Homo sapiens: one gene and its partners. The protein of the gene in region 1 purifies or fractionates together with the protein of each later gene. This does not show direct contact. Each region holds a gene or a part of one and is shown in the gene's direction. Other genes may lie near its edges.

The links.
Region 2: the proteins of UQCRC2 (region 1) and PTGES2 purify together in Homo sapiens (affinity purification with mass spectrometry; 2 studies listed by BioGRID and IntAct, with this or other methods). This does not show direct contact.
Region 3: the proteins of UQCRC2 (region 1) and HADHB fractionate together in Homo sapiens (co-fractionation; 2 studies listed by BioGRID). This does not show direct contact.
Region 4: the proteins of UQCRC2 (region 1) and ATP5F1C fractionate together in Homo sapiens (co-fractionation; 2 studies listed by BioGRID). This does not show direct contact.

The regions. Positions count from the first base shown.
Region 1 is NC_000016.10:21,976,751-21,984,808, forward strand, and holds the end of UQCRC2 (cytochrome b-c1 complex subunit 2, mitochondrial precursor), read left to right. Parts: intron 1-3,796; coding exon 3,797-3,950; intron 3,951-6,337; coding exon 6,338-6,421; 3' UTR 6,422-6,910; downstream 6,911-8,058. Other genes in the region: PDZD9 (PDZ domain-containing protein 9), read right to left, coding at 7,517-7,910. UniProt on the Homo sapiens protein: Component of the ubiquinol-cytochrome c oxidoreductase, a multisubunit transmembrane complex that is part of the mitochondrial electron transport chain which drives oxidative phosphorylation.
Region 2 is NC_000009.12:128,124,730-128,131,950, reverse strand, and holds the start of PTGES2 (prostaglandin E synthase 2), read left to right. Parts: upstream 1-4,221; 5' UTR 4,222-4,233; coding exon 4,234-4,512; intron 4,513-6,509; coding exon 6,510-6,707; intron 6,708-7,079; exon of another isoform or gene 7,080-7,172; intron 7,173-7,221. UniProt on the Homo sapiens protein: Isomerase that catalyzes the conversion of PGH2 into the more stable prostaglandin E2 (PGE2) (in vitro). The biological function and the GSH-dependent property of PTGES2 is still under debate.
Region 3 is NC_000002.12:26,268,208-26,276,465, forward strand, and holds part of HADHB (trifunctional enzyme subunit beta, mitochondrial isoform 1 precursor), read left to right. Parts: intron 1-1,745; coding exon 1,746-1,790; intron 1,791-5,443; coding exon 5,444-5,543; intron 5,544-8,258. UniProt on the Homo sapiens protein: Mitochondrial trifunctional enzyme catalyzes the last three of the four reactions of the mitochondrial beta-oxidation pathway.
Region 4 is NC_000010.11:7,791,177-7,798,176, forward strand, and holds part of ATP5F1C (ATP synthase F(1) complex subunit gamma, mitochondrial isoform L (liver) precursor), read left to right. Parts: intron 1-4,944; coding exon 4,945-4,979; intron 4,980-5,870; coding exon 5,871-6,002; intron 6,003-7,000.

The DNA.
Region 1 (8,058 bases):
ACTTTTTTATCTTATTTAAATAGCATCCTTATTATAGAAGTTTGAAAATTACAAATAAAAGACAAAAATGATCTCTGATTTCCCTAGCAATGATTCTGTTTCCATTGATTCAAATTACTAAAAATTTAAACAATATTCATTGGTGTGTCAAAATACACTTGTGCATTTTCTGCAGTTATAAAGATATCTTTGGGCTTAAAATATTTTTGTGTTTCGTATTACTTTCTTGGTGTAGATTCCCAACTAAGTTAAGAGTTATAAACATAACGAAAGACTCCATGTTAGAGTGTGTGTATGTGTGTATGTTTAAATAATACATTTGACTAGGCGCAGTTGCTCATACCTGTAATCCCAGGACTTTGGGAGGCTGGGGCAGGAGGATCACTTGAGGCCAGGAGTTCAACCAGCCTGGGTAATGTGGCAAGACACTGTCTTTACAAAAAGATATTTAAAACTAGCCAGGTGTGGTAGTGTGTGCCTGTAGCCTCAGCTACTCAGGAGGCTGAAGAGGGGGGATTGCTTGAGCCCACGAGTTTGAGGCTGCAGTGAACTAAGATCACGCCATTGCACACTAGCCTGGGCAACAGAGCAAGACCCTGTCTCTTAAAAAAAAAAAATGTATTTCTAAGTCACAAATCTAAAGAGATTGTACCAGTTTATAATCATACCACCAGTATATAAGAGTACCTATTCTACAATAGTTTCTTTCTTCATAACTAATTTATACCCAAAAAAGATCTGATTTTGTTTTGTTTTATAAGAAAGACTAAAATACTTGTCTGCTATTTGGCAATTTATAAATCCCCACTGTCCAGATTGAAAGTGCTATCAACACTCCTAATTCATTAGTAGTTCGAGGGTTTCTCTAAAAGAGACAGACTTGGGACAAAGTTGGAAATCAACCTGCATTTTCATACAGCCGCTTAAGACATTTAAGTTTGACTCCATCTACTTAGAACAATTCAAAATGTGAATCTTGCAACTCCAGTGGTCGTTATGATCATTTAGTATTGCCCACAGGGGAAGCAGAATTACAACCCAGGATGGAACAACCTTTTGGTCATTTCTGTTCCCATTAGTATTGTTAGTTTTGTTATGCTGAGCACACTACAAAGTTGCATCTCTTGTATAAGTACAACACAATTTATTAAATATTGTATACATAGAACCAAGAATCGATAGGATGCAGGGCTGCTTGATTGTACCAGAAACAAAACATGATGAGAATACATTGAAACACTGGATTTACTTAAGAAAAACCTAAGTTTTTCAAATCTAATTTATTTAAGAAAACGTATTTTCTTAATAAGTGTAACACAGTTCTTACAAGGTATGGTAATAAGCAGAAAGTAGAATTTTGAATATTAATGTCAAAGTATGTTTTCTGCCATTTTGATGGAGTTGATACTTTTTCTTGTAAGTTCTTCCTGTAGTGAAAGAGAGAAAGTGAGGTGTCATTGCCGAAAGGACACACTAATAACCTCTTGGTAGTTTATTGCAGGTAAAATCATTTTTTAATTAAGCTGACAACGTGGTAAAACTGCAGCATTAAATTGTAATTATGTTTAAATGGAAGTCTTTCTGTAGAGTGTTAAAGGATGATAAACGTTTGAGGTTCAAATAACTCGACTGTCTTATCAAACACCATGTCTATAAGTAATAAGTTTCTGGGAGAATTGTGAATTGGATTTTGTTTTATTTCAAGTGGATGCTTTTGTGCCCATATTTAAGCTGCCGTTGCTTACAAGACCTGTACTGCCCTTCCCCACCTGCCTTTTCCATCATACCCTATGCTCACAGACAAATCTCAGCAAGAGGCAGGAGTTGCTTCACTAATCAAAACCTTACATTAAAATAGTTTTACCTAGATCTAAGTTCTAGTCCCAAATCAAAAAGCAATCTGTGGAGTTTTCAGTATAATTTCGTACTGACAGCTTTCCAAATAGTAACGTAAACGGTTCACGTACTTGGTGAACTGAAGAAATAGAATGGAGGCCATTAGCACTGTAAGTTGTTAGTTTGCCTGTTTACCAAAAATATGTTGAGTTTCGGGGCACATACCTTAAAATTGCCCTGTTTCACTGTGTAAGAGGAACTGGCTTGACTACTTCACCCTTGGTGAAAACAAACAGGCCCTAAAAGAGGCAGCAACAGCTGAAGTGGATATCACAGAAATAAACAGACAGCAGAAGCTCTTCAGACACCCCCGAAACCTGCCAAAACTCACAGGTAATACAAGTGAAACGATAGCATAAGAAGAAAATAAACATGAGAATCTTCAAACTACAAGCATTGAACGGTATCCTCCATCCAAGAAGAGAACCCACTTCATACAAGGAAAAGGCAAAAGGAAAAGGTCAAGACTGTGACCTTTATAACACTGTGACCCCAGCTGTGGGCCAGGTGGAGTTGTCTGTGGTGACACCAAGTACAGGCCTGACACCCTGGTTTGACAGAAGGCTCTTCAAGATCCCTGGTCTTCACACTGTAGCAGCCAAAAGGTAGGTTTACAATATACACTGTCCCCAACTTGCCATGGATCAATTATAATTTTTCAACTTGACTATGGAGGAAAACCATCGCAATTTCAGCTTCCAGTCATGGGTCACATAACGATGGGGATACATTCTGAGAAATGTGGTGTTAGGTGGTTTCATCACTGTGTGAACCTCAGTGTTCAGACAAATCTAGATGGTATAGCCTACTACACACATGGGCTCTATGGTATAGTCTATTGCTCTTAGGCTACAAACCTGTATAGCATGTACTATAGTACTGAATACTGTAGGCAGTTATAACACAAAGGTAAGTATTTGTGCATCTAAACATAGGAAAGGTACAGTAAAAATACAGCACAAAAGATAAAAAAATGGTATGCCATTTTTATGGCATAGCTCCTGCTTTCGAGTGAGTCAGTGAGTGAGTGGTGAGTAAATGGGAAGGGCTGGGACATTACTGTGCACTGCTGTAGATACTAAACACTGTAAACATAGGCTACGCTAAATTTATTTTTTTAAAATTGCACTACAACATTATGTTGTCAGTAAGTAATAGGAATCTTTCAGCTCCCTAATAATCTTAACGGGACCACCATCATATATGTGGTCCATCATTGACCAAAAACATCATTATGTAGTACATGACTATACCTTGAATTTCGATCTTTTCCTAGGCTAGTGATATGCAGTACATGAGATAATCAATGCTTCCTTACAAAATGGGCTTATGTTAGAAGACTTTTGCCCAGCTGCAGGCTATTGTAAGTGTTCTGAGCACATATGAGATAACCTGGGCCAAGCTATGATGTTCGATACGTTAGGTGTATTAAATGCACTTTTGACTGCCATCTCAGTGGATGACAGCCTTCTCACTGACAGCAGAGAGATCTTCCTCACTGTGCCAGTGGGCAGGAGAAAGAGCATGCTGCGACTGGCCAGTGACATGCAGAGGATCCAGATTGCACAACCGGATCCAGAGGCCTTGGGAAGCATTAGGGAGCTCTCCAGCTGTCTCACTCAAATCTGTAGCAGCATATGGACCCACAAATGGAGGCCAAAGTGGGCCCTCAATTGGACACTTTGGCAACCCTGAAGAGACTTCTTCCCTTCAGACTTACTGTTTTAGTATGTTCCAGAGAAGGGAGTGGCATTCTTCTTGGGGAATTCAGGAAGAGGGAGACACGCTGTTACTCTATCCATTAAATAAAGCTTTGATGTTCACAGCCCCCCGCCACCACTCAGAAAAAAAAAATAATTGCCTTGCTCTCTAAAACTGACTTCTGCCTTTTATTGGACAGGAACAAGCTGAAAGCTGGATACCTAATGTCAGTGGAGTCTTCTGAGTGTTTCCTGGAAGAAGTCGGGTCCCAGGCTCTAGTTGCTGGTTCTTACATGCCACCATCCACAGTCCTTCAGCAGATTGATTCAGTGGCTAATGCTGATATCATAAATGTAAGTAAATGAAAACTTAACGATTTAACAACAGAGAACTTAACCTTAATGATCCAATTTCAGAAGGATGCATAAGCGTCCTTGGGCAGTGTATTATTCTTATGTTTGGTGCTCATCTACTTAATGTGGAGGCAGGAGGGCTCATTCCCATAAGATCCGCAACAAGCTTCCCTGTCAGCTCGAGTATATGTATCTTCCTCCTTCAAATAAACTACCATTAGGTTAAACTGTGATGTCAGTAAGAGGGCTGCCATCCACTGAGATGGCAGTCAAAAGTGCATTTAATACACCTAACGTATCAAACGTTAGGTTAAACTAATGGTAGTTTATAAAATGGGCTTATGTTAGATGACTAGAAGTAAAGAAGAGTCAAATATTAGCAGTTTCATATGATCCAACCTAAATAGTGAAGTTTGCTATTTTTCCTCTTCAGTCCTAGCAATATTTCACCATCTAGCATCTTAAGATTTTCTTTACTCTTCTCAGCCTAGGACATTCTCTTGTTCTTGCTAATTTTTTTTTCACATATATTATTGTTCCCTACAATATTGAGCTGTTTTGAGGGCAAGGACTATGTCATGTACTTCTTTGTGTTCCCTGCTGTGCCTAACAAGCACATGACCTACAGAATTAATCCAAAGTAAGTGGGTTTTCCCCATTTTCTACATTAAACTTGCCAACTTGCTTTCTACTGTAGATGTCTCGGCCATCTTCTCACCAACAGGTCTACCTTGTATAGGGACAGTGGGGATAAGAAAAAATAAAAAACTAAGCTGGGTGCAGTGGCTCATTCCTGTAATCCCAGCACTTTGGAAGGCTGAGGTGGGCAGATTGCTTGAGCCCAGGAGTTCAATACCAGACTGGGCAATGTAGCAAAACCCCATCTCTACAAAAAAGTACAAAAATTAGCTAGGCTTGGTGGCATGCGCCTGTAGTCCCAGCTACTCAGGAGCTCATGGGGCTGAGGTGGGAAGGTGGCTTGAGCCTGGGAGGCAGAGGTTGCAGCGAGCCGAGATCATGCCACTGTACTCCAGGCTGGGCAACAGAGTGAGACCCTGTCTCAAATAAAAAAGAGACAAGGCTATTTTAAGATAGTAACCCTGACTTGATTTCACTTCGCCCCAATCGTCATTTCATACTCTTCTTTTTTTTTTTTTTGAGACGGAGTCTTGCTCTGTTGCCCAGGCTGGAGTGCAGTGGCGCGATCTCGGCTCAGTACAACCTCCGCCTCCCGGGTTCACGCCATTTTCCTGCCTCAGCCTTCCTAGTAACTGGGACTACAGGTGCCCACCACCACGGCCGGCTAATTTTTTGTATTTTTAGTAGAGACGGGGTTTTACCATGTTAGCCAGGATGGTCTCGATCTCCTGACCTCGTGATCCACCCGCCTCAGCCTTCCAAAGTGCTGGGATTACAGGTGTGAATCAACGCGCCCAGCCCATTTGGTACTCTTTTAAATGGCTGTCTTCATCTTATATCCTATCATTATGTGCGTCCCAACCCGACTGCTTCCACCACCACCTCTCCTTCATAGTAATAAGATAAGCTGGCCTGACAGAATATGGGGGCTGCTGCTCCACCTACACCTGACTCATGATACTACACTTAACCAGCCTTTGAACTTGGAAGTAGTGGCATAAAGAATCCTCTAGGGTATCAAGTTTTACTTTTAAGTTAACAATCAATGTATTTTTATTGACCCAGACTATTTGCCATTGTAATACCGAAACAGGAAAGTATATCCCTGCCTGAAGCCACACTACTCTATTTGACAGTGTCAGTGTTGTTTTCCTTATCTCTCTTTGAACAGCTACCCTCTTACCAGTGTTGCTCTTGCTTGGTTCATTACACATACAATGGGACTTTCAGAGAAACAGCTAAGCTTTTCCTCCCACACTGTCCCAAATTAAAGCACCAGCCATCTCCTAGTTAATTTTCACAACAGCTATTATAGTAATTGCTGGCTTAGAATGTCCTATCGAAGGCCAGGTTGGTGGCTCACGCCTGTAATCCCAGCACTTTGGGAGGTTAAGGTGAGTGGATCACTTGAGGCTAGGAGTTTGAGACCAGCCTGGCCAACATGGCGAAATCCCGTCTCTACTAAAAATACAAAAATTAGCTGGGCATAGTGATACATGCCTGTAATCCCAGCTCCTTGGGAGGGTGAGGCAGAGAATTGCTTGAACCTGGGAGGCGGAGGCTGCAGTGAGCCAAGATCGCAGCACTGCACTCCACACTGGGTGACAGAGCGAGACTCCACCTCAAAAAAAAAAAAAAAAAAAAGAATGTCCTATCCATAAATTCTTGAAATGACAAAATAAGTTCGCCTGCTTGATGATATATATTTTTATTTTTGTTAATTTTGTCTTTTGTTTGTTTCTTTAAAGGCGGCAAAGAAGTTTGTTTCTGGCCAGAAGTCAATGGCAGCAAGTGGAAATTTGGGACATACACCTTTTGTTGATGAGTTGTAATACTGATGCACACATTACAGGAGAGAGCTGAACGTTCTCTCAGCCCAGAGCAGCAAACACATGAAAGTCAGAAGTCTCTAATATATCATTTGTCTTTTTTCCAGTGAGGTAAAATAAGGCATAAATGCAGGTAATTATTCCCAGCTGACCTAAAGTCAATAAAACATTCTGTTTAAGTGTTTTTCTTACGTTTTTCTCAATGAGTTAATCAACAAGTATTTATTATGTGCTGATATCTTTGTTTTAGATGCTTTAAAGGAGACAGGAATATAATTATTGAGTATAGAAGCATCAGAAACTATTAAAATTAAGGCTAAGTGGCTATCGGGGTAAATAGTGCCAGATTACTATTGGTGGCGTTTAAGATGAAAGCAAGTTCAAAATTTGTCATTTTGGGTGTCAACAGCTAAATGGTCTGGTTTTTACCCCTGTTTTGCCTTTTTTGCAATAAAATTATTTCCAAAAAACATACATTTCCTATCAATCATATCCTATATTCCCATTCATTCATTTTTTTATGTCTGATTTATCTTCATTGACAGAGTTTTGTTTTTCTCTCATCTCCTGTCTCTCCCTTATCTGTTACTATCCTGTCTCTTCCAAATAATTAACTCTCAATTCAACATTTACAGTAAAAGAAGGGCTAAAAAGGGGAAAAAAAAAGAATTCTAATGTGAATAACTAGCCAAAGAATTATGTCTCTTAGTTATTTTAATTATAGTACTTGAAGTTTACCAAAAAAAAGAGAGAAACTAAATATTTAAAGAAAAATGTAGTGTTTACATAAAGTGACATTCTCTACTATGTTCAGACATTCTGATATTGGATTTCTCTACGGCATTTTCTAAAAGAAAGAAATTCTTCTCAAAAAGGAGGGTCTTATTCTGAAAATAAGATTTGTGAGGCCTGCAAGAACCCAAGGAAGTCTTTAGATAATCCTGTTGAAGAACATCTCTAAAGGCTTTATAACGCAGTCATAAGAGAAGAGAATTGGTGAGTCTACAGACAGTCCTTGATAAGTACAGCAAACTTGTGCCTGGTGAGGCACAAAACTTGGGTGTCTGCAAGATAAATGCTCATATGACCACAGATTTGCTAACCAACCTTTGATACCAGTTGGGCTTTACCCTCTTCAACTTGGGCACAATCTTCCAGCCAAAATGCATCTGAGGTAGAGGAGGTAGAGGAGGAAGAGCTTTCATTGTCTTGCTTCACCATTATCCAGTATGGAGAAGGGGCCCTCACTTCTTTCTTGTCGTCTCTGTGAATCATCACGTCACAATTAATGTCTTTTCCTACACTAATAGTATGGTTCTTCTTCTTATATCCATGCCAGTCTCTGGAGATGGATATTGGTCTCCTTGCAGGGTGATGCACAGTTGACCACGGATATCTATAATATTGAAGTCTTTTATCTAAATCTACATTTTCATTATCATCACTGCTTGTGAAAGATTCATCTTTTGCCAGCTCAATTTTCTTTGGTGTGCTGAAATGAAAAGAATAGTGAATAAAATAGATTCTTCATGTCTAAACATTTATGGTCCCCTAACAAGATGCCTTATAACTTGCTTTGACTCATAAAAGATACAATTTAGCTTTAGCATTACCTTTCTGTGTCATTGAAATGTTTCTCT
Region 2 (7,221 bases), on another chromosome or scaffold:
TAGCACTCATTTCCTGGGACCCTCACCACTGGGGAGCTTATGCAGATAAAATCTACCCTCAAACAAGAACATCTCACCAGCAGCTGGCGGTGGACAGGCAGGCATCCAGAGACTGGAGCAGATGTTTCTCAGCTCTGGCCAGTGAGTGCCCCTTGATCCCTGTGGCCCAGCCTGGAGCTTCCAGGGACCCAAGAGACCTTCCTTCCCAGGTTCCTTCTTGCTCTCCCTGCTCTGTCCTCTCCCCATGGCTGCCTCCCCTTGTGCCATGGCTCAGGGGGAATGTCCTTCCTATTCCCAATGGCCACCTTCTCGCCCTGATGGACACGTCTCCACCTGTTTCTCTGTGGAGTGTGAGCATCAGGAAACCCTCTGTGCTCCCAGCGAGGCTGCCGGTGAGTGGAATCTGGCTTTGGGAAGCATCTTGAGTGCAGGACACCAACAGCATCAGAAATTTCTGAACAGCACCTGCCTTCTAGCGTGTAACGAGGTGCCACAGGGAGAGCCCCAGTGCTTGGCACACTGTAGGCATGTAGCAGCTTTTCGTGGAACTAAGGGACAAAGGTGCGACTTGCAAGGACACAGTGGCTTTTCTTCTTTTAGGAGAGCCCAGAGGTGCTCCTTAGGCAGGCCAATAATGGGAGCTGAGTGAGGGGGAGGAGGAAGAGGGTGGCTTTGCTTCCCTGGGGTGGGGGGTTCTATTCCCTAATGGCCATTGGAAATCAGCATTCATACTTGGCAAGAAATAGCTAACCTCTACCTTGGGGAGCATAGGCTTGGAGAGGATGTGCCTACTGCAACCACTGGCTTTCAAAAGACTGGGCTTTCTTTGCTGATGCTGGATCAAACGTACTGAGACATGGCCACAGAAGCTCTGCTGCTTTATGGACATGAAAGGTGGGTGACAAAGCCCTGAAGAGGGGACTAGGGTATCCTAAATTCTGAAATCTGTCCCCAGATGCACAAGCCTCCACGTGGAAAAGGGAGAAGGACTGCTTGCATGGTGTACGGCCTTGGGTGCAGTGACGGATGGCGCACACCTGCCCCAGTGCCCTCCATTGAGGTTTGGAGCAGTGACCTCACCTCTGCACAGACCCACCTGCAGGGTGGGGGGATAGGACGGGGCTATCTCAAGTGTGGGGGGCACCAGGGCAGGGCACCTTGGAAGTATTGCCAGGATAACTAACTGAAGACCAGTGGTTAGGGCAGGGCAGCCCTGCCCCTGTTCTCTGTCCTGTCTCTCAGGAACTGGCGTGAGATGGGGAGATCAGGTGCACAGTGAGGGGCGTAGCTGTGGATTGAACATAGCATGGTCAGGCTTCTGTCTTTTATTATTTATTTATTCATTTATTTATGATATATCATAGTTGTACATACTTTGGGGGTACATGTGATACTTTGATACCTGTATGAAACATGTAATGATCAAATCAAGGAAATTAAGATCTTCATCACCTCAAACATTTATCTTTTTTGTGTGTGGGCGGCAAGCCACCCAGGCACCGAGGCAAGAGACAGAGGACACGAGCTCTTCCAGTATAATAAAATATAAAACAAGAATAGTTATACCAGATATAGATCTTAGATATGATTATATATGACTATCATTAATCATTAGTTTGTAGCAATTACTTTTTATTCCAATATTATGATAATCCTCGCTCTATAATCATAGCCTAGGAAAAACCAGGCCATACAGAGATAGGAGCTGAGGGGACATAGTGAGGTGTGACCAGAAGACAAGAGTGCGAGCCTTCTGTTATGCCCACACAGGGCCACCAGAGGGCTCCTTGGTCTAGCGGTGACGCCAGCATCTGGGAAGACGCCCGTTACCAGGCGGATCATGGTCCAGCAGTAGCAAAAGGTGTCAAGGAACAACACCTGCTACTTAGCAGACCGGGAAAGGGAGGGTGGGGGTCTCCCTTTCCCCGGGGGAGTTTAGAGAAGACTCTGCTCCTCCACCTCTTGTGGAGGGCCTGACATCAGTCAGGCTCGCCCGCAGTTATCTGGAGGCCTGTCTCCCTGTGATGCTGTGCTTCAGTGGTCACGCTCCTAGTCCGCCTTCATGTTCCATCCTGTACACCTGGCTCTGCCTTCCAGATAGCAGTAGTCAATTAGTGAAAATACTAATAGTCCCTGATATGCAGAAATAATGGCGTAAGCTGTCTTTCTCTTTGTCTCCTCTCCCTCTCTGCCTCCGCTGCCAGGCAGGGAAGGGCCCCCTGTCCAGTGGACACGTGACCCACGTGACCTTACCTATCATTGGAGGTGACTGACATTCTTTACCCTGCCCCTTCTGCCTTGTATCCAATAAATAACAGTGCAGCCAGACATTCGGGGCCACTACCGGTCTCCGCGCATTGGTGGTAGTGGTCCCCCGGGCCCAGCTGCCTTTTCTCGTCTCTTTGTCTTGTGTCTTTATTTCTACACTCTCTCGTCGCCGCACACAGGGAGAGACCTACCGACCCTGTGGGGCTGGACCCTACAGCGCCCTGTGTCACCTCGGCAGCTTAAGCACGTGCAACTGGTTGCTCTGTAAGCTGCTCACATTTGGCAAGGCTGCGAGGCCACACCAGCAAAGCCAGGTGGCTGGAGATGCTGACCCAGCAGAGCATCGCGCTCCCCGCCCCGGGCCAGACCCTCCTACTAAGCCCAGCAGGCCAAACACGGACCCGCCCCCCTCAAGTGCCTAGGTGTCCCCGGGGCCTGAACACATCAAGTTACATTTTGATGGAGTTAGAATCCGGAAAATCAAGAGTGTGGAAGATCAGGAGCAATTAATGTAAACAGGAGGAGGATGAAGCTGGGAGGAGCAGGAGCTAGCAAGCAGGAGCTAGCAAGCAGGAGCGTGAGAGTGGCGCTGGGAGAAGGCCTGGATAGGGATAGAGTAGAGCACAGAACATGGGGGTCACCCTCAACCACCCCTAAACACTCTAAGCTCGAGCAGTCCCTCAACTCCTGGTCTGTAAAGTGGCTGAAGGAAGTGGGTGGAGCAAAACCCATATGGGCGAGTGTCCCAGCAGCTGCCTCAGTTTCCCTATCTGTAAAACGGGGCTGGGGACCTGCAGCTCTCACGGGACTGGTTACCCGCTCGCGGGTGCTCGCCCTGCATCCGAGACAGCACCTACAACTCCAAACCCACTCGGGGCGGGTCGAGGTGGGCCCTTCGGTCCCTTCGAAGCCAACATCCCGATTCCCCTTCCCGGGAAGGCACCCCCGGAAACGCCAAGGTCGCTCCAGCAGTCTCCTCGGGTCACCCGCTTCCCCGAAGCCGTCGTCCTCGCCTTCCGCTCTCGTCTTCACCGGCATACTCAGGTCCCCGCTGGGGACTGACACTGCGGGCTCGGTCGCCGCAAGGACTGGAAGGAAGGTGGAAGATGCGGGGCGAAAGCGGAGCGAGAAGAGTGGGACGCGGCGGAGCAGCAGAGCCGGGACTCAGAGCTCCCCCCTCGCCCCGCCCCTCTCCCCGCCCACTCTGCGAGTCCCGCCCCCTCTCGGGCGCCGGGCGGGGCCATCCCGGGGCTGTCCGCGGAGACGCCTATGCGGTGGAGGCTCCGGGCTTCAGCTAGGGCGGGGGAGCCCAGCAGAAGGACCGAGCAGCCTGGCACCCCACTTTGCCATCCTCTCCCTGGAAATCTCGGGGTCGGCGGGCCGGCCGCTTCGCGTGGGCGAAATCAGAGACACGTGGTTTCCAAGGCCCCTTCGGGTTCGGGAAAATTTTATGGTTCGGGTCACAGTAGGAAGCGGACAATGAGGCGGGAGGGCAGAGAGAACCGCAACACCTGGTGCCGGGTCGGGTCGTTTCCGGGGCTTTCAGTGGCCGGAAGTCGCGGCGCCTGTACTGACTCTAGGAAGGGCTGGAGTTGTTTTGAATGGGCGCCCGTAAGAGAGGTGGGCAAGTACGTGTTACAGACGGCCACGCCGCCCTTTAGGCGGTCAAGGTGGGGCGAGGAGACGTTCGCCCCCCTGCAGTCGGCCGGGTCACTACCCAAGAGCCTTTGGAGGCGGAAGCATGGAACGGTCTGCAAACGTTCCCGAGCGGGCCTCTGCGGCTCTGGCGGGCGTTTCGAACTTGGGCGCCGGGCACACGCCCAGTCCCGAGAGCGCTGAGGGTTCCCTTAGCGTCGCCCTCACCCCGGCCAACCCGCGGGGCGCCAGAGTCCTGGCCCTTTAAACGCCGCGCGTGCCTCGGCGTCTTCGTTTCGCGCGCCCGCCCGCGGCGCCGGCGGAGCGAACATGGACCCGGCTGCGCGGGTGGTGCGGGCGCTGTGGCCTGGTGGGTGCGCCTTGGCCTGGAGGCTGGGAGGCCGCCCCCAGCCGCTGCTACCCACGCAGAGCCGGGCTGGCTTCGCGGGGGCGGCGGGCGGCCCGAGCCCCGTGGCTGCAGCTCGTAAGGGGAGCCCGCGGCTGCTGGGAGCTGCGGCGCTGGCCCTGGGGGGAGCCCTGGGGCTGTACCACACGGCGCGGTGGCACCTGCGCGCCCAGGACCTCCACGCAGAGCGCTCAGCCGCGCAGGTAAGGCCTGGCCCGGCCGGGGATGGGGATGCTGATCAGCGCCGAACTCGGGACTCCTGGGAACCCGCAGGGTCAGGAGTTGCCTCTGCCTGCTTGTGACCTTGGGCGAGTGACTTGGTCTGAAGTCTCCGAACCCTCTGTATTCTTTTGTGTAAAATAGGGGCACTCCTGATGCCTACTACCTGGAATTGTTCGAGTTCTCATAAAATCGTTCTTCTACCGTGGTTTTTTTTTTTTTTTTTTTTTTGGTTTGTTTATTTATGTTTTCGAGACAGGGTCTCGCATTATCGCCCAGGCTGGAGTGCGATCGCGGCTCACTGCAGCCTCTGCCTCCCAGGTTGAAGGGATCCTCCTGCCTCAGCCTCCCGAGTAGCTGGGACTATAGGCTCACCCCACTGCGCCCTGCTAATTTTTGTATTTTTTGTAGAGATAGGGTTTCACCATGTCGCCCAGGCTGGTCTCGAACTCCTGGCCTCAAGTGATCCGCCCACCTTGGCCTCTGAAAGTGCTGGGATCACAGGCGTGAGCCACTGCGCCCAGCCTTTACCATGTTTTAAGGAGACTTTTTTTTTTTGAGACGGAGTTTTTTTTTGCTCTGTTGCCCAGGCTGGAGTGCAGTGGCGCGATCTCGGTTCACTGCAACCTCCGCCTCCTGGGTTCAAGCAATTCTCCTGCCTCAGCCTCCCCAGTAGCTGGGATTACAGGCGCCTGCCACCCAGCCCGGCTAATTTTTGTATTTTTACTAGAGACGGGGGTCTCACCATGTTGGCCAAGCTGGTCTCGAACTCCTGACCTCAAATGAGCCACCCGCCTCGGCCTCCCAAAGTGCTGGGATTACAGGTGTGAGCCACGGAGCCCAGCCTCTACCGTGTTTTAAGACTTTTTTGATTAAGAGATGGGAGATCACAGGAAAGGGAAAGCCTTTTTCACTTTCCAAACGTTCATCATCCTCTCTCCCCACTGCCCCCAAATCCTAAGGCTGTGTATTTATTTAGTAGTAGTGGTGGTACCTTTATGGAACTGATGACTTAGACTCCAGGCTGAAACAGGAAGAGGTAGAAAGGTGCCCCCCCCAAGTGGTGACCCCCTAAGTGGTGGCCCAGCTGCCTTGAGACACTTTATACCTACCCCACACCTTGCAACTCTTCATTACTTGACTTCCCACCACCCGCCCACAGATGCTTATTTGCTGGACCAGAGGGAACAGAGGTGGGTAAAAAGGGCATGGAGTACTCTGTGTCTCCCTTCCTGCCTCCACGGTCCAGCTTCCCCTCTGAACACAGGGGGATGGTCTACAGTTGTGGCTTCCCGGCATGAACGTGCAGCAGGCTCCCCTGGGGGCTTTCCTGCGGAGCTTGCCACACGCAGGCCTTGGCTCAGATACCACCCTCCCCCTCGGATATTTGAGATAGACTTTGGCTGGAGGATCACATGAACCCCGGAGTTCAAGGCTGCAGTGAGCTGTGATCAAGCTACTGCACTCCAGCTTGGATGGCAGAGTGAGACCCTGTCTCCAGAGAAAAAAACAAGAAAGAGATTGGAGGTAGACCCCACTGGTGAACATGAGCCTGGGTGGTAGCCCAGCTCTGCCCCCAGAGGTCCCTGGGGTTAGAGGAGTGAGAGTGAACAAGTCAAGTTGAAACAGTTGTTCCATGTCTGTGGGAGTGGGGTGTATACCCTGGGGCTGTCTGGTGTCCCCTTGGGACTGGAGTGAGAAAAGAGGGGTCTGTCCAGTATGGGACAGAGACTAGAAGATTCCTCCTACACAACCTCGCAGCAAAGGGTGGGACTCCTGCTTGGGGACCGTGCTGGCCAGGGGCTTAAACCTGGGCTGCTGTCCAGTGCCTCCCTTTCCCCTACCGCCCCCTTCCATCTCTAGTTCCTCTTCCCGATGTTCTAGCGTCATTTCAGAAGACTCCTCTGGAAAACACCCTTGGGGGCAGGGCCTGGGCCTGGGGGTGCCAGGTCTAGAAGCCTTTTCCGTCTGCTGCCCGCAGCTCTCCCTGTCCAGCCGCCTGCAGCTGACCCTGTACCAGTACAAGACGTGTCCCTTCTGCAGCAAGGTCCGAGCCTTCCTCGACTTCCATGCCCTGCCCTACCAGGTGGTGGAGGTGAACCCTGTGCGCAGGGCTGAGATCAAGTTCTCCTCCTACAGAAAGGTGCCCATCCTGGTGGCCCAGGAAGGAGAAAGCTCGGTGAGCCCCAGGGAACCCCCTGCATCCTTCCTCCTTTCCTGGGTTGTCCTGGAGCGCCCCCTAGCCTGGCCTGGCTCTGCAGCCTGGGAAGGAACTTGTGATCCTTGTGCCTGTAAGGACTATGGGGGAAGTAGCTGCATACGGTAGATGCTCAATAAATGTAGGCTCTCTCCTTCCGTACCAAAACCAAACACCTGCTGGGTCTCAGGGAGGCAGAACACCACAGCTTAACAACATAGATTCTGAAATCAGCGATCTGGGTTTGAGGTGTGATTCACCCACTCACTAGCTGTGTGACTTGGGGCAAGTCACTTAGCCTCTCTGCGCTTGCTTGCTTCATGAGTCAACAAGGGACCATATTCTGGCTTGCAGGGACGGCAGATATGAAATGCCTGGCACAGTGCTTGGGGTCTAGTATGTAGCTTCCAGAACCCACCCTGCCCCTCTACCTGGGAGGCCAAATGGGTGAGTGGGCTGGGGCTTAGACCCCACGGCTTTCCCACACCTTCCTCCC
Region 3 (8,258 bases), on another chromosome or scaffold:
GATCTACAAATGAATGCTAAAATTAGGTGAAATGCTAAGAAGAAACAGAATATTTGCATAGTCTCAGAGAATCTCCCCCAAAATATTTATCAATTACTATGATGATTTCGACATACGTCCGCAAAGTCTGTGTTATTCCTGCCACTGGAAGGTGGAACTTAATTCTCCCCTCAGAATGTGGGCTAGACTTAGTGACTCACTTCTAACAAATTGAGATAAGAAAGGAAAAAATAGTAACTTTATAGTGGAGTAAACTGGCAGACATCACTTGACCCAAATCATCACTTTAACATCACTGGTAGTAAGTCATGTTGATATCATGTGCCCCCTGATACGAAGCTAAGAGAAATACAGTTTACCTCTGTGATATTCTTCCCCTAAATCCATAACCCCAGTCTTCAAAAGTGTCAAGGTCATGAAAGACAAGGAAGACTGAGAAACTGTCACAAATTGGAGGAGACTGAGGAGGCATGACAACTAAATGCAACATGGTATCTTGGATTGAATCTTGGAACAGAAAAAGGACATTAGTGGAACAACTGGTGAGACTCAGATAGGTAGTAGCTTAGTGAATAGTATTGTGCCAATGTTCATTTCTTAGTTTTAATAAGTATATCATGGTTATGTAAGATGTCAGTATTAGAAAAAGCAGGGGAAGGCTGGGCGCGGTGACTCACGTCTGTAATCCCAGCACTTTGGGAGGCCAAGGCGGGCAAATCACCTGAGGTCAGGAGTTCAGGACCAGCGTGGCCAACATGGTGAAATCCCATCTCTACTAAAAATACAAAAAAATCAGCTGGGCGTGGTGGTGGGTGCCCGTAATCCCAGCTATTCGGGAAGCTGAGGCAGGAGAATTGCTTGAACCCTGGAGGTGGAGGTTGCAGTGAGCTGAGATTGCGCCATTGCACTTCAGCCTGGGCAACAAGAGCGAACCTCCGTCTTAAAAAAAAAAAAAAAACAGCAGGGGGAAAGAGGAACTCTGCTCTCTTTTTCCAATTCTTATTTATGTATTTACACAGGGTCTTGCTCTGCTGCCCAGACTGGAGTGCAGTGGTGTGATCCTAGCAGCCTCAAATTCATGGCCTTAAGCAGTCTTCTCACCTCAGCCTCCCAAGTAGCTAGGACTACAGATCCATGCCACCACGCCTGGCTAATTTTTAATATTTTTTGTAAGAGACAAGGTCTTGCTTGCTCTGTTACCCAGGCTGGTCTTGAACTCCTGGCCTCAAGTAGTCATATCACCTCAGCCTCCCAAAATGTTGGGATTCTAGGTGTGAGCCACCATGCTTGGCCTCTTTCCAATTCTTTGGTAAATCTCAAGTTACTTAAAAGCAAAAAGTTTCTTCAAAAGTCCTAATACATCACCTGTAGCCCTGTAGGCATTACAAAATAAATAAATAATATACTTTTAAAATAAAATGTTTAAAGGAAAAGAGACCTCAAAGGTGGGGCTTCACTTTAAAGAAAATTTAGCATATGTTATACTGAACATTAAGGTGTTGGACAACATTTTTGTTCGATTCTTAGCAAGCTCAGGAGGAGTTAAGGCTTGCTAGACTTTTAAGGATGACAAATAGCGAAGTCACACTATTTCTTCATTTGAAATGATGGACTGCCTTGGATAGTAAAGTTAAGTGTGTTTGTAGCAGCATGTGTTTGATGATCTCTGGGTATTTCAAATAGAATGAAAATTTTTCATTGAAGCTCTAGGGTTTTGGTTTAAATTACTGGTTTTCGTTCCCCAGATATAAAGACCTGATGCCACATGATTTGGCTAGAGCAGCGCTTACGTAAGTAAATGCAGTTTCATTTCCGTTCTTATTTCATTAAAGGCACTTTCTCCAGTTTTTACACATAAAATAGCAATTTGTTCTTATTTTAGCCATCTGTACTATACAAATTTAAGCAGCTTATGAATATTGTCAATCTTTATTTTGCAGGCCTAACAGTGTCTTAGCCTGACAGTATACTTTAATGCTACCTTAGCTAGCCACAGGACTCGATTGATCAGCCTAAACACAATACATATATTTGATGATTGCCTTAGGAACTTGTATAAGGGTAGCTGAACAGATTATGTAGATATTTACCTAGAAAGAAGCCTAAAAGACACCTGAAGATTCATGTGCAAACCAAGTAAAAATGTAAAATTAGATGTAGTTAAATAAGATTAGGCTGGATGAATAATTTGGTTGAGAATCATTAAATGTGTTGCTGTTTCATAACATGTAAGGCATTATCTCTTCATTTTCCACTGACACTTTGCCTTTGTGTCTTCAACCAGCCACAGTTCTTTCTTAGTTTGGAGAAACCCTTCAGTTGACCTTTCTGTCCATTCTAACTCTATGTTTGTTTTTTTTTTCTTCCTGCAATACCTCAAGCATGAGTGAAAGAGCAGTTGTTTCTGTTTCCTTATTATTAGTTTCCTCTGTCTAATTGTATAATCATTATTTCCATTTTCCCTTTGTTTTACAGAAACCATACTTTAGAATCTTCTCTTAATAATGGTTTTATGATTGCTCAATGTACTGATCCTTTCTCAGTCCTCTGTCTCTGTACTTTATAGCACTTGACACTGTAAGCTATAATCACCTCTCTTCTGTTGACTTCTTAGTAATATGCCTTTATGATTTTTCTTTTTCTTCTGTATCCTGACTGATTCTTCTGTAGCTTTTTTTTTTTTTTTTTTGAGACGGAGTCTCGCTCTGTCACCCAGGCTGGAGTGCAGTGGCGTGATTTCGGCTCACTGCAAGCTCTGCCTGCCGGGTTCACGCCATTCTCCTGCCTCAGCCTCCCGAGTACCTGGGACTACAGGCGCCTGCCACCATGCCCGGCTAATTTTTTTTTTCTTTTTTTTTTTTGTATTTTTAGTAGAGACGGGGTTTCACTGTGTTAGCCAGGATGGTGTCGATCTCCTGACCTCGTGATCCGCCCTCCTCGGCCTCCCAAAGTGCTGGGCTTACAGGTGTGAGCCACTGCGCCCGGCCGATTCTTCTCTAGCTTAAAAAAAAAAAACTGGGCCAAGCACGGTGGCTCACTCCTGTAATCCCAGCACTTTGGGAGGCTGAGGTGGGCAGATCACCTGAGGTCGGGAGTTCAAGACCAGCCTGACCAACATGGAGAAACCCCATCTCTACTAAAAATACAAAATTAGCTGGGCGTAGTAGCACATGCCTGTAATGCCAGCTACTTGGAAGGCTGAGGCAGGAGAATCCCTTGAACCTGGGAGGCAGAGGTTGCAGTGAGCCGAGATCACGCCATTGCACTCCAGCCTGGGCAACAAGAGCAAAACTCCGTCTCAAAAAATAAAAATAAAAAACCACACACACACACAACTGGATCTCTCCCTCTTTCTCTTTTTGAAAGGTGTTTTGCAAGTTTCATTCCTTAGAGCTTTGCATTTCTCTGTATGCATATTTTCCTTTAAAAATCTCATCTACTAGCTAGGCATGGTGTCTTACACCTATAATCCCAGCACTTTAGGAAACCAAGGCAGGAGGATCAAGGTAGGAGGATCTTTTGAGCCCAGGAGTTTGAGACCAGCCTAAGCAACATAGTAAGACTCCATCTCTACAAAAAAAAATTTTAAAAATTAGCCAACCAAGAGAATTCAGCTCAGGAGTTGAAGGTTGCAGTGAGCTATGATTCCACTACTAGACTCCAGGCAGGGCAATCGAGCAAGACTTTGTCTCAAAAAAAAAATTTTTTTTAAATTTTTAATTTATTTTTTTCTGTATGGAGTCTCACTCTGTCCAAGGCTGGAGTGCAGTTGCTTGATCATAGCTCACTGCAACCTCGAAGCCTCCCAGGTAACTGGGACTATAGGCGTAAGCCAATGTTTCTAACCCTCTTTTTAGTTTTTTTAATTGATAAAAAACTACAGATTTTACAGATTTTTATTTATTTATTTCATTGTAGCCAAGTTTAGTCATTACTCATTTTGAAGCTCAGCTTATTCCACATTTTATCTGGCACTCCTTCAAGTTGGCTCCTGTGTGCCTTTTGTTTTTTAGTATAATGCTGGTTGTTGATATATAATTTGCATGCAATAAAGTGCACAGATTTTAAGTGTATAGTTTGATGAGTTTTGACAAATGTATATACCCCGTGTTCCTGTTTTTGATATGGTCCCATTTGTCTTTTTTTTTTTTTTTTGACACAGAGTTTCGCTCTTGTTGCGCAAATTGGAGTGCAGTGGCACGATCTCGGCTCACTGCAGCCTCCGCCTCCCAGGTTCAAGCAATTCTCCTGCCTCAGCCTTCCGAGTAGCTGGAATTACAGGCACATGCCACCAGTCTTGGCTAATTTTTTTTGTATTTTTAGTAGAGACGGGGTTTTGCTGTGTTAGCCAGGCTGGTCTCGAACTCCTGTCCTCAAGTGATCCGCCTGCCTCGGCCTCCCAAAGTGCTAGGATTACAGGCTTAAACCACTGTGCCCGGCTGATATGGTCCCATTTGTCTTTGAGTGCTTCCTTACTTTTGGCACAAAAAAGATGGAAATTCACTTTGTACTTTCTTCTGGACCTGGTATCAGTCATTTCTTAAAAAACCTTTTGTCCTTTTAATGGGGAATGGCATTTAGAAACCAAATCTGGGGCCGGGTATAGTGGCTTACACCTATAATCCCAGCACTTTGGGAGGCCAAGGCTGGTGGATCACTTGCAGTCAGGAGTCCGAGACCAGCCTGGCTAACATGGTGAACCCTGTTTCTACTAAAAATACAAAAATAAGCCAGGCATCATGGCAGGCGCTTGTAGCCCCAGCTACTCAGGAGGCTGAGGTGAGAGAACCACTTAAACCCAGGAGGTGGAGGTTGCAGTGAGCCGAGATTGTGCCAGTACACTCCATCCAGCCTGGGTGAAAGGGCAAGATTCTTATCTCAAAAAAAAAAAAAGGAAACCAAGTCTGGGTTCAGGGAGTGCTCATTCCTACTGGAGTGTTATTGTGTCTAGTTTCTATTCATGGGCACAACTAGAATATATGTATTATTTCAATCATTTGTTGATACTGATATTTCAAACTAAAATTTAACATACCCAGGACTTCTTTTTTTTTAATTTTTTTTAATAGTCTTAAGGGAGACTTTGCTTTATCTCTTTGATTGAATATTTGTCTCTCTTTTTCACTGCAAACTTTGGTTTCTACTAACATTAATTAACATTAATTTATAGGTTTCTTATCTATTTTATTCTATTCCAAATTATTTTTTATTCTCTAACTTCTCATTACCAATTCAGCATCAAATGTTGACTTTTAAAATCACTCTTTCATTCATTTCTTCTTTGAGAAGGTGCCAAATGCTTGTCAAATTAAAGAAAAGATACAGTCTCTGTCCTTTTAAATTCAAGGCTAACCTTTTTCAAGGAGCGCAGTGTTTTGTGTGATGATCTCTGGCACTGCCTTGATGTGTGAAATGTTTCTTTGCTTTGGATTTCTACTTCCAGGGGTTTGTTGCATCGGACCAGTGTCCCTAAGGAAGTAGTTGATTATATCATCTTTGGTACAGTTATTCAGGAAGTGAAAACAAGCAATGTGGCTAGAGAGGTGAGTAAAACAAACTTTATGTTGTTTAAAGAGTGATAGGAGAATCACTTTGAATTTCAATTAATAGAAGTTACTTTACAAAAGCCTTTAAAATCTATTGAGTTACATTTGACCTAAAATGTGATTTTACAGCTTGGGTAATGTGTTATTTAATATGTAAAAGAATTCTAATATAAATCAAATGACATACACTATATTAGTGTATATCCATACTTTACTGTAAATCAAATAAATTATTTGAGCTGGTTTAGGACATTGTCTCTTGTGTTAGGAAAATAGAGATCAGCAAAGTGTGGCTGATAGTATTTTTAGTAATGTTAGATATCATGGCTTCCAATTAATTTAAAATTTCAACATGTTGCAGAGAACTAATTTCATAACTTGACTTTTGTTAGCTGGAAGTAGCCTTGCTTACTCATTTGTTCCCATCAACTAGATGGCACGTAAGGCAGCTTGGCTTTTTAAAAACTATTTCACAGGAGTTTACTTTTGCCCTAGTTGGCATAGCTCCATGTAGTGTCGATTGGGCAACCAAGATAATGACAGGCCTTGGAACTTCTAGGATGTGTCCTACAGGCAAATCCAAACACGTCTTCTGGGCTGTGTTTTCATTTAAAATCGATTGGATGAAGTTGGCACCAAAAGCACATTTCATTGTACTCAGTATTTTCCCTAGTTCTGGTCTGTGCTTGCCATATTGTTGGGTTCAGTATCACTGTCAACTGAGAGACAAGGGCACATGAGCAGGACTGAAAGTATTTGTTCTGTTCCACCTCTGTACCTGGCAGAAATGTTAGAACTGCCAAAGGCCTGGCATGACTGAAGCCTACGAAACTAACTGTGTGCTGTTGAGGGGCAGGAAGGAATTAACAATAGGAAGAGATTTTATTTCCCTTCTGAAATTTTTTGTTTTTCCTTGAACCTTGACATTTCTGAATGTTTCAAATATGATAATTTCATGAGTACATCAAGCTGCTCATAATACATTTTCAACTTTTATATTCTGAAAATAACCTATTACTTTTATAAGAGCACTTAAGATGTAAATAGTAAATTTTTTTGCTGTTTTCTCCTCTTGCTCAGCTTTTTATCCCATCCTTTCTTCCTTCTCCTCCTCCTCAAAAAATAAAAAAATAAATAAATAAAAATAAATGTTTCCATTTTCTCTGTAATTCAGTTCTTTTTTTCCTAAAACTAAAGCCATAATGTTTTCCTCTGAAATTTTTCCTGGAAATTTTACATCCATTTGCAGATCTCAGCTATTGATTGACAGGAGGTAGATTCCCTCTGCCTGCCCTGTACTAATACCAGTTATGTTGTGCTCCAGGTAATTTTTGCAGCATCTGCAGGGAGAGATTGGGTTGAGGGGGATACATTATGAGAATGTCACTCTAAAGCTGTATTGCAACCTAAAAGCTAACATAATTTCCAGCCAAAGAATTTCTTAGGCCCTATTGCCTGTATTAATAATGTTAATATACAGTCCTTGCAACCTAAAAGCTAACATAATTTTCAGCCAAAGAGTTTCTTAGGCCCTATTGCCTGTATTAATAATGTTAATATACAGTCCTAAAAGGCTCCTGGTGTTCATGAACCTGACTTTGTTGAAAGGTTCAGCATATTTCCCTGTTCTCCAGCTTAAAGACATCTTCCTCCTTTTCCCTTAGTGCCCTGAGAGCTATTCAAATTTCAATAGAAGTGTGTGGACAAGGGTCACCAATAGCCACCTCTATTTAAAGCTCCTTCCGTCCTGAGAGTCATCTAGGGCCAAGGGCAACACAAATTAGAAAGGCCCTTGTGAGAATCGAGCCATTGCAACCTAAGTGCCCCTTTTACACTTGCCCTTTGCAGAGCTCTTCCCTCCTGCCCCCCTGAGATACTTGCGTCTCTCTTCCTTTCGGATTGGTTTACGTTGAGAGGCTGATGCACAGGTGCCTGGCAGAAGTTCTCAACAAAGCAGGTTGGGCATTTAGTATCAGGCCTACCTGGAAAGACCAGAATGAGGTCATGTTGCAGTTACATCACTAACACATTTCTGTTTCTATAGATTATGGTAAATAGCATAAAAGTAAGTAAGTATAAAGGTAAAAATCAGTTAAGAGACATTGAATTTCTAATTGAGACTTTGGAAACATTTATTTTACTAAATTATAGGAGAGTGTGTTCTGAGGATAATTAATAGTTTCAGGGAAAGAATACTAAAAATGAATTCCCTATAATGGGATCCAGTATTTCATAGTAAATATTGTGTGGGTGTGTATGTGGGAGGAAATCTGGAAGCTTTATTTCTAAAGTAAAACTTTAATATTATAAAAATAAGTATTTTATAATTGCACCTGTGCATTAATTATTTACATAAACAAAAATGGAATCAGACGTTGATTGGTTTTTGACAGCATAATTTCCCCCAATAAATAGTATAATAAAATTATAGATGTGCTCATTTCATGTTTGACTTTCACTGTGCCATTATAATAGAGGCCATTTTTAAAAGATTAATAATGACCTCAGTTTTTCTTAAAGCCGCTCAGATGACAAATTATTCTCTTTGTATCACGTATTATGCCATCATCCTGGCCACTTGTTAGTTGGTCTGACCCTTATTTGTTCACAGACTCACTTGTAACTCAGGCAATTCTCCAGTTTCTTTCATTGAGTTGAGCTTCTGTATAGTTGGCAAGTTTTCCAGTTCATCTTTGCATTGGGTCTGCAGTG
Region 4 (7,000 bases), on another chromosome or scaffold:
GTAGTCCCAGCTACTCGGGAGGCTGAGGCAGGAGAATTGCTTGAACCCGGGAGGCGGAGGTTGCAGTGAGCTGAGATCGTGCCACTGCATTTCAGCCTGGCGACACAGTGAGACTCCATCTCAAAAACAAAAAAAAAAAGATGATGCAGTCATGGGTGTGGGTTAGGTAAGTGTGAAGGAGTCAGTTTTTGCTGGTGGCAGGTAATGGACTTTTACACGCTTAATATCAGAATTAGAGTCACTTCATAATTTTCGTTGAGAATTAGCCAATATTGCTTGCTTTTTAAGTTTTTATGTATCTTAATATACTCCTTAAAAATCTCTCAAACAATAGTTTCTTGGAAGGGTGTCATTCCTGACTCCCTCCTCCACTGCCTTCGTCAGCTGTTATAACAGCGCTGTGGAATCATGGTAGATAGTGGTAATCCACGGTCCATTTGATTCTCCCTCCACTGTGTTTCTTAGTCTCCCGAGGATCTCAGGACGTGCAATGATTCAGAGCTTTATCTCCTCATTTGCAAAACTTTTATATTTAATAAAGGAAGCTATCCCTAAAGAGAGTTCAATTAGCTCATCACTGTTCTTACTCAAATTGTACCTAACAATTAAAGTAGTAACATAGACGTCTTCAGAATTAAATGAAAGCTAAACATGAGAGTGCTTTAAAACACATGAAATTAGGGCAAATGCGTAGCATTATCACAAAAGATGCTACCTCTTCATACCTCTGACTTGGAGTACTTAAGGAAACCAAAACATTCTGTGTTTGTCCAAATATGGTATTCAATTCAAATTTATACCATATGGTATTCTCTGACTAGAAACTTGTGTCAGTTGAAGTGTCTGCCTAAAACAATAATATCCAAGAGTGACTTGTTATAACCAATAAATTTTGTGTTCAGGGAGAAAAGTCATTACTACACCAAAAAAGGAAGGTTGACCAAAAACTGGTATTACTTTTCAAGTGTGATTATGAAAAGCTGTTGTAGTAGAACAGTCATGGCAGGTAGTTTGTGCTCTGAAATAACAGAGCTTGTCAGGATTTGCCAGCTTTTATCTTTTCCTTTAGTAGATTCATTCTTAAAACCAAACCTAATATTTTTCGTGCTGTAGTGGGAGAATCACCTGAGCCCAGGAAGTTGAGACTGCAGGAAGCCATGATCACACCACTGCACTATAGCCTGGGTGAGGGGAGTGAGACCCTGTCTTCAAACCGCAAAAAACAAAGATCCACTCTTTTTGTTATACAGTTCCACGGATTTGGACAAATGCATAATGACATGTATCCACCATTACAATATCATGCCAAAGAGCTTCACTGCCCTAAAAATCCCTCCTCTACTCTCCCCAAAACCCTGACAACCACTTCTCTCAACTATTGCTAGATCCTCGGCTTTTCTGGCATGTCACATAGCCAGAATCATACAGTATTTGCTTTTTTTCAGATGGCCTTCTCTCCCTTAGCAGTATGCACTTAAGGTTTCTCCATGCCTTTTTATAACTTAATAGCTCCTTTGTGGTTTTGGTGAATAATAGTCCATTGTATGGATGTATCAGAGTTAGATTATCCATTCATGTATTGAAGGACATCTGGGTTGCTTCCAACTTTTGGCATCATGAATGAAGCTGCTTTACATGCTCTTGTGTAGGTTTTATGTGGACATAACATTTCATCTCAGTTGGGTAAGTTAAGACTAGGTTTAGGTTTGTAAAAAGCTACCAGAACATCTTCCCAAGTGGCTGTGTACTATTTTACATTCTGCCAGCCATCAATGAGAGTTCCTTTTGCTCCACATCCTCATCATCATTTGCTGGTCAGTTTCTTGGGTTTTATCCATTCTTGCAGGTGTGTAGTGATATCTTACTGTTTTAACTTGCAGTTCTCTAATGACATGATACTGAGCATCATCTTATGTGCTTTTTGCCATCTGGTTGGTTTTTGTTTTTGTTTTTTGAGACAGAGTCTTGCTCTGTCATCCAGGTGGAATGCAATGGCACGATCTCTGCTCACCACAACCTCCACCTCCTGGGTTCAAGCGATTCTTCTGCCTCAGCCTCCTGAGTAGCTGGGATTACAGGTGCCCACCAGCACGCCTGGCTAATTTTTTGTATTTTTAGTAGAGACGGGGTTTCACCATGTTGGTCAGGCTGGTCTCGGAACTCCTGACCTCGTGATCCGCCTGCCTCGGCCTCCCAAAGTGCTGGGATTATAGGCGTGAGCCACCGCACCTGGCCCTGCCATCTGTTGATCTTCTTTGGTGAAGTTTCCAGATCTTTTGCCCATTTTTTTTATTTGGGTTGTTTGTTCTCTTATTGCATTTTAAGAGTTGTTTGTTTTGGATACAAGTCCTTTATCAGAGATGAGTTTTAGAAATATTTTCTCCCAGCCTGTGGATTGACTTTTCATTCTCTTCACAGTATTTTTCACAGGACAGAAGTTCTAAATTTCAATAAAGCCCAACTCATTTTTTTCTGTCATGGATCATGCTTTTGGTGTTGTGTTTAAAAACTCATTGCCAAACCCAAGGCACCTGGATTGTCTCCTGTGGTATCTTGTAGAAGTTTTATGGTTTGGCATTTTATATTTAGGCCTGTGATTCATTTTAAGTTAATTTTTATTAAATTTGTAAAGTCATTGTACAGATTAATATTTTTGCATATTAGTGTCCAGTTGTTCCAGTGCCATTTGTTTGTTGAAAAGAATATCCTTTTTTCCTTGAATTGCTTTTGCTTTTTTATTACTGTAACTTTAGAGGAGGTCTTAACGTCAGGTAGTGTCAGTCCTGACAATATTGTTTGACTTTTCTAGGTCTTTGGCCTTCCTATATAACCTTGAAAATCAGTTTATTGATATCCACAAAATAGATATCAACTAAAATCAAACTTGCTGAGATTCTAATGGATTTTTAAAATTGTAAAACACATGGAACATGAAGTTTATCATTTTAACCATACAATTGTGTGCGGGCATTTTTAACTTCATACTCCAGTAGTTCAGGGCTGCTGCAGAGGAATGCAACTAGCTTTTTATATACACTAACCTTATATCCTGCAACCTTGTCATAAATGCTTATTGGTTCTAGGAGGGGCTATTTTTATTCTTTGGGATTTTCTACATAGATAATCATGTCATCTATGAACAAAAACAGTTTTATTCCTTCCCTTCAAATTTCTATGCCTCTTATTTTCTTGTCTTACTGCATTAGCTAAGACTTCCAGTATGATACTGAAGAAGAGTGATGAGTGGGGATTTCCTTGTCTTGTTCGCAATCTTATGGGGAAAGCTCCTAGCCTCTCCCATTAAATCAGAGATTTTGTGTGTTGTTTTTTTTTTTTTTAGCAGGTTGAGGAAGTTCTCTATTCCTAGTTTGCTGAGAGACTTTTTCATGACTGGGTGTTAGATTTTGTTGGATGCTTTTTCTGCACCTATTGATTGTATGATTTTTTCTTTAACCTGTTGACGTAATAGATTATATTATTTGATTTTTTAATATTGAACCAGCTTTGCATACCTGGAGTAAATCCCACGTAGTGATGGTGTATAATTATTTTTAATACATTGTTGGATTTGATTTGCTAATACACTGTTGAGGATTTTTGCCTCTAACCTATGCTCATGAGAGATATTAGTCACTGTCCACCAAGGTCATTCAATTAGAGAAACCTTAGATCATTCTTACTGCTTTCCTTTCTACTACGAATGTACATGTGAAGAAGTTAAATGCTTGCAAATCTAGTCTCCTATTGCTTTGCCAGCATCTTCATCCAGGTTCTTGAGGTCTCTCCTGAGGCTGTGGCAGCCTACATCCCCATGTCTTCTGTGTTCATCAAAACTCCAACCTCATTTTACGCTTGTCACTGCCATGTGAGATACTTTGCTGAAATACTAAACTGATTTGTGGGCTTATAAACATTCATTTCCCTATTAACCTACAAATAAGATTTAAACCAATTTGCTTTTTTTGATATTTAAAAATATTAATTATTTAAAGTAACAAACCCAACTCATGTGTCCAGTTTCCCCTTCTCCATTTCTCACTCTTTCCTGATCATGAATGCTCTTAAAATGACATTCTGTTCCCGAGAATCCCCTCCTCACATCTCTACTTTGTGCACACATTTCATCATGCTCAGTTCTCCTGTGTAGCTTTGCCTGCAAACACAGGCACTTTGTATGGATTTGAAGGCAGAAAGATCATCTAATATTTTTTAGCATGTCTTCCCCCATTAGGCCAGGAATTCTCTCATATTCATCTTTCACCAACATTTCATTTAAGCCTAATCATTTTGACTTCTGCACATTAGCATTTCAATTTTAAAGACTTGAAAAAAAATACTAAATGTTATGTAAATGTAATTTTTTATGAACCTTGTTTACAAGGTAACAATATGTCAGAGACCATGTCGTGTTTACCAGTGCCTGGAATTTAGAGCATCTTGGTAAATGTTTATTGAGCTAAATTGAAAAAGTTAAGAATCAGTTTATATAAACTACTTTTACACGTGTAGTCATGTTCGACTATATCATTGACTCTGTTACTGGAAGAGGTTGCTGTGAACTAAGGAAATTTTTAGAGTGGCTGGCCTTGATTCGAAGTATAGTTGGGCAGCTTAACAAGGGGAGGGGCTTTTCTGTCATGGAAACAAGATAAGCAAAGATATGGAGGTGGGACTAGAGCATGTGTGAGTCAATAGAGCATGTTGACTTCTGGGAAGGTGGTGGTACAGACAGGCCAAATAAAAGGAGGCCTTCAATACAGGGATTTGCGCCACTACTAAGGGATTTAAATATATGTCTATTCATATACATTCTGAGTCCTGTATTTGATAGATTGTTTCTTTATGGGGTATTCTTTAAATAAATATATATTAACTGAAAGTTTTTCTTGTATAATGGAACTATTTTTCAAAAAACTGAAACATTTTTAAAACTTTTATCCTCAGGATTCAAGTTCGAAATATGGCAACTTTGAAAGATAGTAAGTATGTTGTTTGTCTCAATATGTGAATTGAGAAAAACTAAATTTTGACAAATACAAATACTTTCAAAAATATACTGCTTTAGCCCATTGTGTATTTGATCAAAACTGACCAAATGGATTTCCATTGTATGTTTGGGACATTGGACTTGTTCTGAAAAGACCAGTAAGAAAGGACACCTGAGACAGCTATGTTCTGTTGTTTGTAGAATGATCATGATATAACTAGAAAAAATTATACCAGTGTTGGTGTAGGTGGGTGTATGTGTGGGAAGGGGTAAATCATGTTATATATAAATAATGTTATGGAATATGTGGTTAAGGCAACTTTCAATACCATTTAATGTTTTAAATGTATATTATTGTCTTATGTTGCCATTTGCTTGTCCTAAGTAGTAGCTAGTTTTGCCTTCCTTTTATTAGTACTATTTCTATTTTTTTTTTTTGGAGATGGAGCCTCATTCTATCACCCAGGCTGGAGTGCAGTGGCGCCATCTCGGCTCACTGCAAGCTCCGCCTCCCGGGTTCACGCCGTTCTCCTGCCTCAGCCTCCCGAGTAGCTGGGACTACAGGCGCCCGCCACCACGCTCGGCTAATTTTTTGTATTTTTAGTGGAGACGGGGTTTCACCGTGTTAGCCAAGATGGTCTTGATCTCCTGACCTCGTGATCCGCCCACCTCAGCCTCCCAAAGTGCTGGGATTACAGGCGTGAGCCACCGTGCCCGGCTATTAGTACTAGTTCTAATATTAAGACTGGTTTAGCATCGTGCTGTTTATTGTTTATCTAAGCGCTCATTATTCTGCCTTGCACTTCAGAAAAATATGTCAATAAATTCACAAGGAAGTTATACTGTAATTCCTTTGTCTTAACACAGTACTTCTATTTTTCAGTCACCAGGAGACTAAAGTCCATCAAAAACATCCAGAAAATTACCAAGTCTATGAAAATGGTAGCGGCAGCAAAATATGCCCGAGCTGAGAGAGAGCTGAAACCAGCTCGAATATATGGATTGGGATCTTTAGGTAAGGGAAGAGTGTAATTCACAAATTAGGAAGAACTGTTTCACACAAGGAAGACTACTGATGACTTACATTTAGAGCTTACAGTGATGTCAAGCCTATCTGAGCACTTGCCATGTACTTATTTTTCATCTACATCCACTTGACACGTAATGATAACAACCCGTGTAGGTAGTACAGGTAGGGACTGTTAGAATCCCTGCTTTCCAGTGAGAAAAACTGAAGCACACAGAAGTTAAGTAACTTGCCTAAGATCACATATAAAAGGATGAAGAGCCTCTGTTTGGACCTATGTGGTTTGGTGTCGAGTCTGTGTATTTGTTAGCCATTATACGTGACCATGTTAACTTTTAAAATATTCTGAAATGTTCCCAGTTGTTAAGTATACCATCAGAAGAACTTGGAAACCGTGCGTTAGATGTAAGGGCTTAATTTCATCCTATGACCTTGTAGTGTGGCATTTTAGGACTGCAGCGGGGGCGGGTGAGGGGCAGTGCAGTGGAGAGCTGGCCTTGTGGTCATGGATATGACTCATGATGGTGTTTTGAGAATCCGAACGATGTTGAAGCAGGAAAAGCAGCTGAGAACCTCCATTTTCAAGATACTTAATCACCATTCTTATCTTTTCAAAAGCATGAAGACATTTTTCCTTCAGAAATTTATGTAATCCATCCTTAATTAGTCTTCTTAATGGAAAAGAGATGAGATATGACAGTTTAAAAAGAATTTATATTGTGTTTTTAGATGCTTTTATACTTGTTTGATTATGAATTCATCTTGGAAATAAAGTTGTAAAGAGCTGGAAATGGGAAAGAAGTTTCTATTTTAACTTGTAATTACATTCTTTCTCTTAACTTTTTTATGATCATGCTGTCTTATCCTGAGTTGAGGCTATCTAAAAGAATTTTTAACTTAAGGAAGATTTATGCATATTTGATAGTAAAGAAGATCATGCAGTGAACCCCCTATTTATCTACCAAATCCTCAGTATCTCAACTGAC